Homo sapiens: one gene and its partner. The protein of the gene in region 2 interacts with the protein of the main gene of each other region in a pairwise test. Each region holds a gene or a part of one and is shown on either strand. Other genes may lie near its edges.

The links. The genes of interacting proteins can lie anywhere in the genome.
Region 1: the proteins of SASH1 (region 2) and EPS8L2 interact in a two-hybrid assay, tested with the Homo sapiens proteins (one large-scale study listed by BioGRID).

What each region holds. Positions count from the first base shown.
Region 1 is NC_000011.10:704,758-709,164, reverse strand, and holds the start of EPS8L2 (epidermal growth factor receptor kinase substrate 8-like protein 2), read right to left. Parts: upstream 2,935-4,407; 5' UTR 2,877-2,934; intron 2,594-2,876; exon of another isoform or gene 2,082-2,593; intron 1-2,081. UniProt on the Homo sapiens protein: Stimulates guanine exchange activity of SOS1. May play a role in membrane ruffling and remodeling of the actin cytoskeleton. In the cochlea, is required for stereocilia maintenance in adult hair cells.
Region 2 is NC_000006.12:148,340,886-148,345,956, forward strand, and holds the start of SASH1 (SAM and SH3 domain-containing protein 1), read left to right. Parts: upstream 1-1,952; 5' UTR 1,953-2,182; coding exon 2,183-2,338; intron 2,339-5,071. UniProt on the Homo sapiens protein: Is a positive regulator of NF-kappa-B signaling downstream of TLR4 activation. It acts as a scaffold molecule to assemble a molecular complex that includes TRAF6, MAP3K7, CHUK and IKBKB, thereby facilitating NF-kappa-B signaling activation.

The DNA.
Region 1 (4,407 bases), on a different chromosome or scaffold from region 2:
TCCCAGTTGACAGTCGATCAGCCTCGTCATGCCTCAGACCCTAGGTGCTCCACAGGGACCCCCCAGAGGCTGACTGGGAGGCTCTGACAAGGGCCCTGGGGGCAGAAGGCGCCTTCCAAGCTGGGCAGCATGGAGTTTAAGGCCCTGGTGCTGTGGGGAGGGGGGTGGGATGGGTAAGGGGAGGGGGATGAGGTGGGAGTGTGGGGGGAGGGGGGTGCGGTGGGGGTTGGGGGAGGGCGGGTGGGAGCTGCAGGATGGCAGGAGAGGTGAGGCTGGAGTTGGGGTAGGTCCTGAAGTCCAGAGGGAGCCCGGCTCTAGCCGCCACTCCTGCCCCACCCCAGGCCTGCACCCCAAGGGGCTCCTGCACCCACATGTGGACTTGCCACCCACACATGCCACCTCTGTCCAGGCCCCAGCAAAGAGGCTGGCCCTTGGCTCTTTCCTGGGCCTGGGAGACCTGGCAGGGAAGAGGCTGTGCGGGCAGGAAACCCTGGGGTCCCCGGGGTGCAGTGTTTCCTCACCTCGAGGGCAGGGATGCGGCCAGGTGGCCAGCGCAGAACCCCTGGCAGCAGCCAAGCCTAGGGGAGGGACTGGAGGGCAGGTGTGGTGGGGGCTGAGACTGGGAGCCAGTCCAGTGGCCCCAACACACAGTATCACTGCCCCTCCAACGAGGTAGGGTGGCTATGGGGCAGGTGCCTCTGGCCTCCCCCAGGGGCAGAATCCTCAGAGCCTGTCTCTGGGCTCCTAGTGCTGACCTCTTCCCCGAGCATTTTGGGGAAACTAAGGCCCAGCCGCCAGGGCAGACAGGTGGGTCTGATTTGGGCTGGACCCTAGGGGCTTCCCGGGGGGATGGACAGAGCCTGATGGCCCTGAACCAGGCTGACTTGTCCCAAGGGGACTATGCCCTGTGGGGACCTGGCTGTTCTGTGGCTCTGTGATCAGCTCCCCACAGGTCCACACCATCTGCCTCCTGCCAGGGCTGCAGGGCTGTCCCCTGTGGCTTCAGAGTTTGGGTCTGCCACGGTGGGGGTCACCAGCCACTGCTGTTGGTATGGAGGGTCAAGGGAGTGGCTCGGAGCACCCGGGACTTTCTGGTTTGACCAGGTCTGGCCTAGTGGGAGGGTCTGGGAGGCCCGGGGGCACTGCCGCTGACATGAGGGGCTGGGTGCACCAGGGGGTATGGCCACTTCCTCCATCCATCTATCCGTGGAGAATGTCTGGAATGTTCACGGGCTCAGTGGCGAGCCTGAGTGTTTGCTTAATGGGATTCCTGGCGGGCTCCACCAAGGGCGCCAGGCACGTGTGTCCAGGCACACACCTGGGCGAGACACCAACGCACCCTTGCAGACTCAGGCCTGGGGGCACGCAAACATGGAGGGCTGTGACACGCGACCCCCCTGGGGAAGGCCAGGTTCCTGGCCTTCGGTTGCCTGCAGGGCATCGGGGACCTCAGGCCCAGGCAGGGCCGGGCAGCAGTGGGGTGGGTCCAGGTGTGGTGTCTGGGTCTGAAGCACATGGGTATGGGGCTGCCTCCTGCCCTGTGGGAGCCCCGCCCCCCTGGGGAGGCTTCTTTGGCCCACTGGTGGTGGGGACGAAGCCCTGGAGGCCCAGGCTGCACTTTGTACTGTGGTCATTTTCCCGGTGTGAAGTGAGGCAGAGCGGGGTGCCCGGTCAGTCGGGCTGTGGAGGGGAGGAGGTCCCAGCAGGGCAGGAGGGTAGAGGGACGGGCTCCAAGTTCAAGTTCCAGCTCCACATGCTGAGTGACCTTGGGGAGGGGTCAGCTGAGTCACAGGGGCTCCAGGCTGCCCTCATAGGCGCTGGGTGGGGCCCTGGAATGGGGAGGCCCCTCAGGCCCTGGCCCTGTCCTTGTTTGGAAGCTATGGCTTGAGGGAGGAAGGGATAAGCTGGGGAAGCTGAGGGTGGGAAAGGAGACCGAGGCAGGCGGAGAAGGCCCGGTGGGAGAGCTATGCCAACAAGGCCTGGGTGCTAAGCAGGCCCGGGAGAGGCTGGGACCCAGGAGGGGCCGCGAGGGGAGGAGGGGCCGCGAGGGGAGGGGCCGCCGCCAGCTGGGCCTGCCTCCCAGCACAGCCGACCCAGGACTGAGCACGGGGTGGGTGGGGGCAGAGGTCCGGGCATGCCCGGCCCTGCCTCCCCCTCCCCTGCCACCAGGGACACCCCGCAGCAAGGGGCAACGCCAGGCAGCTGGACGCAGGGACCAGGAATCTAGGATGGCTGAAGTTCGCGTGCCCACAGGCTCCTGCCAGCCCACCCTCCTGCCTCTCCTGGCAGGGCCTCTGCAGCCCCTGTCCCAGCCTCCCCTCCTCCCTGAAACTCCCACCCCCAACCCTGACCTGGAGACTGACCCAGCTGGTGCTTCCCGGCCACTGGTTTCCTTCTGGGCTCCGACACCCAGGAAGTGCCTCCTGGCTCCGGCCCACAGGGAGTGGGTGTGCAGTGCTACCTCCACGGTCAGGCCCTCGGGAGGGTCCTGCTGCTCACAGAACCGGGAGAAGCCTCCCTACCACCAGCGCTCTCCGGACGCAGGGATTGCCCCCACCAAGCCCCAGAGCTGGGAGTGGGCAGGACGGGGCAGGTGAGTCACCCATCGCTGGCTTAAAAATATCCTTGCTCGCCGGCCGCCGCCCAGGACCGACGGGGGCAGGCCGGGCTGCAGCAGGACCCGTCCAGGAGAGGTGGGGACTCGACCAGGCCCCCAGCCCCTTGCCCCGCGCCCTCGGCCCGGCCGCCCTCCAAGTGCCCCGCGCCCTGCGACGCCGCGTTCGTCCCGGTGTCCTGAACCAGAAGCCCCGCGTCCCATCGCCACCGGGTAAACTGAGGCCCGGGCGGGCGCGCTCCCCCGTGTCCGCAGCGCTCACCTGCCTCCGGCGCCCCGCGCTCGGCCTGTCCCCTCGGCGCTCGCCGGTGCGTCCGTCTGTTCGCGCCTCGGCCGGGGCGCCAGGTCTCCCGCGGGCGGGTGGGACGCTCGGCGGGGCCGGGCCGGGGCGGGGCCGGGAGAGGAGGAACCTGAGCGACAGGTTGCGGAGTCACCCGAGAGCGGGCGGGCGCGCGGGGGAGGAGGGCGTGGGATGGAGGCGCCCCCGCCGGCCTCGGACCCAGCTCCGCCCCGCCCCCTGCCCCGCCTGGGCTCCAGCCCCAGCCCTCTGCGTCCTCCCCAACACCCGCCTGGTGTGCCCCTCCGCGGGCCTAGCCCCTAGAGCTGGGGCGCTGGGGACAGGCGGGGCGCAGGGCCGCCTCCGCGGGATGAGCAGGGCGAGGCCTCGAGCTCTTCCTTGGGCAGGGCCTAGCTGCGCCCCAGCAGGCCGGGGGACGGGGGAACGCTGCCAATGGGACTTCGGGGGCAGCGCTGGCGCATTGCTGGGGAGGGCTCCAGCCCTGGGGAGGTCAGAGCCTCCGCCGGGCCAGGTGCACCCCTCAGGTGCCCCAGGCATGGGGCAGAGTCACTTCCCTTACCGGGCCCACCGCAGGCCCAGGGGCAGAGGCTTCGGTGAGTGGGTGGGTGTCAGGCAGGACCCAGCCATGCCCACCCCAGGCCTGGAGCCCTGAGTTCACAGTGCAGCTGCTCCTCCAGGCCCCCCTTTCTGCCCAGCCTGGGCACTGAGGGATGGGGTGTCAGGGGAGGTGGGGACACCTCAGGCCCTCTCAGGATGCCTCTCTCCTTGCACTGCCCCGTGGTCAGGCCCAGGCCCCACCTCTGCCCACCACAGTGGGACTGTCTGGTTCCGTCCTCATCTGCCCGGCTTCCAGGATGGCCCTTCTCCCCAGCTGCTGTGACCGCTCAGAACAGGGCCAGGGTGCAGTGGACACAGCGGGTAGCACCGGCTGCCACAGCAGTCAACTGGACGAGGACGAGGTGAAGGGGCACAGGGCGCCCCAGGCCCATGCAGGGACCCAAGGCTCCGGCTGCCGGTCCTGGGTAGGGGTGGGAATGAGCGTGGCCAAGAGTCTGGGTCCCCGGGCTATGGTCCCAGAGGGGCAGGGCTAGCGTGTTTACCCTGGGCTGGCCGGAGCACTTCCTGGGGAGGCGCCATAGGTGAGCTCGGTGGAGGGCTGGCAGGAAGTGGCCCTCCTCCTTCGGGCCCAGTGCCTGCCCCTGAGCCCAGGCAAGACCTGGCTTCCTGGTTTACAGCCTTTGCCGTTTGATCTCCAGGAACCTGCCGTGATCCTGCTCCATGCATGAGCTTGCCCTGACCCAGAGCTCAGGGTCACACACGCCAACCCCTCGGTGCACCCGTGCCCTCACCCTTCCTGGAGGCAGAGCTGGGAGTGGCCAAGTGGGAAACAGGCGCTGGAGAGGACAGCTGGGGGGTGGGGTCCCTCTCCACTCCTAAACGGGTGCCTGTCAACACGATTTTGAGTGCGGAGCCTGCCCTCAGGAGACAGTCCAGG
Region 2 (5,071 bases):
AGCACTTGAGGAGACCAAGGAGGGAGGATCCCTTGAGTCCAGGAGTTTGAGACCACCTTGGGCAACAGCAAGAGATCATGTCTCTATAAAAAATTTAAAAAATTAGTCTGGTGCAGCGGTGTGCCTGTAGTCCCTGCTACTCAGGTGGTTGAGGCAGGAGGATTGCTTGAGCCCAGGAGTTCAAGGCCGCAGTGAGCTACGATTGCAGCACTGCACTGCCGGGGTGAGAGAGCAGGACCTTGTCTCTAAAAAAATTTTTCAGCATACTTTTTTTTTCTTTGGAGACAGAGAGTCTTCCTCTGTCACCCAGGCTGGAGTGCAGCAGCAGGACCTCACTGTAACCTTCGCCTCCTGGGTTCAAGCTATTCTCCTGCCTCAGCCTCCTGAGTAGCTGGGATTACAGGCATGTTCCAACACTCTTGCTATGTTTTGTTTTTTTTTTTTGTTTTTTTTTTTTTTGTATTTTTAGTAGAGACAGGGTTTTGCTGTGTTGACCAGGCTGTTCTCAAAATCCTGGCCTCAAGTGATTCGCCCGCCTCAGCCTCCCAAAGTGCTGGGATTACAGGCGCCAGCCCCGCACCCGCCAAAAACACACAAAAATTATCAGGGATTGTGTTTATAAATTTAGTTACTTTTGAAAATGTTTTTACATTTTGAACTTTCCTGTAAGGACTATTCACCCATTGCATTGATTGGTGCTCACAGCACTTAATACTTGAACAAGGGGAATTCAAGGACATGCTCTTATCCCCTTTCAAGTGGACTCAGAAGGAAAACAAAACAAAACAAAACAAAACAAACAAACAAACAAAAAAAACCCCACAATCAACAAGAAACAGGAGAGGCCTCAAAACAAGCAGGGCTCTCTCCCTGGGGCATCTCACTTTTTTTTTTCCTTTTAAACCACAAGGCCCTAACAGAGGAGCAAACTCCATGTGGTTTCTTAACTGTTTCAAAAGTGATCAATCACCAAATCGAATGTGACGTGCATTGTCACCTTCCAAGGAAAACTCTGAGTAGTCTTGAAAGATAGAATCACAAAAGGGAAAAATCACCTCTCCAGGGCTAGTTCCCTTATAAAATAAATCTGTCCTGGGGCTTCCCCTTGGAAAAACACACACAGGGCCCCAAGTGTGTGTAGGCTGACTGGCTACACAATCATTTGAATTTAGTTTCGAAAATAGCCCTTCCCTGTGTCCCTAATGTAAAGGAATAATTAAAACCCAAAGCGCATTTCCCTTAATTAGCCGAAAGCCCTAGCAATGCATGGCATTGTGGGCATTCAGGAGCCAAAATGCCCCCACTCATAAAAAATGATCCAAACAATGGCTCGTGCCCAAGCTTTCACACTTGTTTTGCAGAGAAGTCTTGGCTGGCAGAGGCAGGATTTGTAATTCCTTGGGTCGCTTGACTTCACGAGGGGCGAGGTATGCATTGTAGCGACACGGACTACTTGTGAAGCCTTTGGGCGGGAGTCGCTTAAAGATTAACTTTCTCGGGTTTCCGTTACCAAAAGCGTTTCCGTGAATAGCGTGATTGGAAACTTGTGCGGGCCGGAGACCGCGGCGCGGCTGCTCTTTCAACAGGCGATTTGTTCTCCTGTCCGAGGCTCATTTCCATGCAAAGAGCCTGACATCAGAGCACCTTTTGTTGCTAAACGCTTTCTTTAGCCTCGAGGGAGAGAGTCATGTGGAGCTGGAAGAGCTCATTTTGAAGAGAGGGGTCCCGGGGAGCTCCCTCCAAGATCTAGAGGCTCCGCGGCCACCCCTGCCGGGTCCTGCCAAGACTTGCTAGAAGGAACGAGTCGCGTGCCTTAGTTAGTTGGTTCCCGTCACAGGAAGAAACGCCTTTGCAGTGGGTTTAATTGCTTCTGGGCCGAGCGAATTCCCCGCCGTACAACTCAGTGGTGCGGACTTTGCCTCCTGCTACCCTGTTGCTGCGCCGAGCGGGGTGGGAAAGTTTCTGGAGTTGTCAGTCGCGCAGCCCGTGGCCACCTAGACCCGAGGTGCGGGCGCCTGCGAAGGGCCCCCGCGGGGTGGCCGGGGCCGCCGGGGCATGCAGCGCGGGGGCGCGGCTCGGTGACGCCGCGGGCGGGGACCCGGCATCCGGGCAGGCTGCGCGCGGGTGCGGGGCGAGGGCGCCGCGGGGACTGGGACGCACGGCCCGCGCGCGGGACACGGCCATGGAGGACGCGGGAGCAGCTGGCCCGGGGCCGGAGCCTGAGCCCGAGCCCGAGCCGGAGCCCGAGCCCGCGCCGGAGCCGGAACCGGAGCCCAAGCCGGGTGCTGGCACATCCGAGGCGTTCTCCCGACTCTGGACCGACGTGATGGGTATCCTGGTAAGTTACCTGGGGAGGGGGCGGCGCAGGAAGTACAGTTCGCAGCAGCCCCTCTGAAACCGGGGGCTCCCTTCTCGCCCACCCACTGGGCAACCCACTCCGCAGAGGCGTCCTTCTCTGGCTCTAGTTCTTAGGGGGCTAAATACACACAGTATAGGATTTCAAACCCTAATTAAAAAATAACCAGCCACAGGTCCCGTCAAAAGGTGTTTTTTAAACAATCGGGTATGATATTCAACAGTTTAATCTGGGACACCTGCTGACATGTTGGTGTGGAAAAGGCGAGAAAGAGGCCTTCAAAAAGTAGATGTAAATAAATATTTGGTTGGTGCTGGATTAGGGAAAAGGCTGATGTTACTGATGTTTATCTCTTCACCATTTGTTGTGTGACCACAAGAGGGAAAACAAACATTTCCTTACTCAGAACTGCCAAAATGTTTGCCTACTTTTTTTTGCAGTTTTTCAATTTGTGGAGTTACAGGATATTTGTTTTATATGTTTGGGGCTAAAACAATAGGACTTATTTTGCTAAATCTGTGCTGTCATGTATTTTGAAATGTCCAGTGACTAAAAGCGCCCCTGGATTTGGCATAGTCTCTGGGAAGCAGTTCTTCTGTATGGAGGGTGAAGTTTTAACCTGCTCAGGGTTGAATACCTTGGGGAAGTAATAGATTTGCTTTGGTGGAGCTGTAGTTAGGCAGGTAGACTGGAATCAGATGGGCGAGGTTTATTACAGTCAGACATCTTAATCCATACATAAAAGACAACTTTAGTTTAAAGACTTGGAATGGCCAGATGTGCAGATTATCAGAAAAGTCTCTAGATTTGCTTTGAGATCTTATATTTTTTGAGTGGGAGGAGATGGAGTGAAAGTTCTTCTTTGGGAATGATAAACCGTGTACAGTTTTTAGCACAGTGATTAAACTCTTGGGCTTCAAAGTAAGTTATACTAGGTCAAATGCCAGCTCTCCAATTGACTGTTTACATGATCTTGGCCAAGTCATTCAACCTCTCTGATCCTCAGTTTCATCACCTGAAAATTGAAGAAAAGAAGACTTGCTTCTTGGGGTTTCTGAGATTTAGCTGGGTTGATGTGTGTATCAAGTACTCAGCAGACTGTATAGCATATAGTAGAGGCTCAATAAGTGTAGCTGTCTTTCAGGTTTTATTTGTTTCCTGCAAAGTCTCCTGTCTCTTCCTTCTGGACATCCTAAAAGCCCAGTTACTCCATTTTCAGGTGACCATTGGTATTTATGATTCTTACTATACAGAGAACCAGCGAGCGTTGGTTAAAGATTTCTATCTGCTCTTGTCACTCTCCAGTATTGAAAAATGTATATAAATATGCATGCAATGTATATTTACATACTATATATAGCACATGTATATAATATACCTAAATCTAATATATATTTTAGATTTAAAAGGTTTTGTTTTTGCATTTTCTGAAGTATACAGATGAATATGATCCTTCACTGAAGTTCCAGAAAACCTAATGGACATTTTAAAGTTGTGATAAACTTTTTCTTTTCTTTTTTTTTTTTTTTTTTGAGACGAAGTCTTGCTCCGTCGCCCAGGCTGGGGTGCAGTGGCACGAGCTCAGCTCACTGCAACCTCCGCCTCCTGAGTTCAAGCAATTTTCCTGCCTCAGCCTCCTGAGTAGCTGGGATTACAGGCGCGCAACACCACACCCGGCTGATTTTTGTATTTTTAGTAGAGACGGGGTTTCACCATGTTAGCCAGGCTGGTCTCGAACTCCTGACCTTGTGATCTGCCCACCTCGGCCTCCCAAAGTGCTGGGATTACAGGCGTGAGCCACCGCGCCCGATAGACTGTTTTTAAGTTATCCTGTTATTTCTTGTCTAGATCCAGTTCTAAGTTTTCAGTCACTGAGGAAATTGGTTTGATAATATCCCATTGTATCCCTTACTCTAGGGCGTTGGGCTGGGGGCGGGGAGGATTGGGGGCCTGTTTAAATGAAACTTGGGCTGAGGGTTCTTTTGGGGAAGAGGGTTGGCCAGTGGCATTTTCTGCAGATTTGCTTTCCCTTCCCTGACAGATTCCAGCACTGTTGGGTCAGTTGTAGTGGAGTGTTCTTTGGCTGAGTTAAAAGATGGGGTGGGGCTTCAGAAGCTCAAACCTGCTATTGAAAGGGCAGATGCAGGAGCAAAGAAAATATGTACTTCAGCTAATCATTCAGGATCAGGCTGGGAAGAACGTAAAGCCTGTCCCAGACAGGTTGTGTTTGCTCATGTTTTCCTCTTGTTTATCTGGGGTAAACAGGCATGGAGATTGTTCCTTAGTAAAATTCAGAGGAAGACATGGCTTACTGCTCCTTTGTAGATGTCTTGCAGGGAGACACCAGGCTAAAAGGGAGGGAAAGCTGTCATCCAAGTGTTTATACAAACTGAGTCTTCGGGGAAATACATCAAGACACAAAATTAACAGTTGACTTTATTCTCACTGAAACAAGAGACACCATTTCCTTCCTTTTTTATTTAAAATATAAGATTTTGCAATCATCTATCAATCTAGACAGGTGAAGTGACTTGGCCAATGGCACATACCATGTTAGTGACAATGTTAGACTTGTCCCTGGTCGCTGGCCCCTCCAGTAGGGATCCTGATGTCATGACGCTCCATAGTTAACTCTCAGATGAATTCAGTAGAAATGTAGTTCAGTACATTTAGAAATCCTGTGTGTTTTAGGTAAAATGTGACTTACAAGATTCT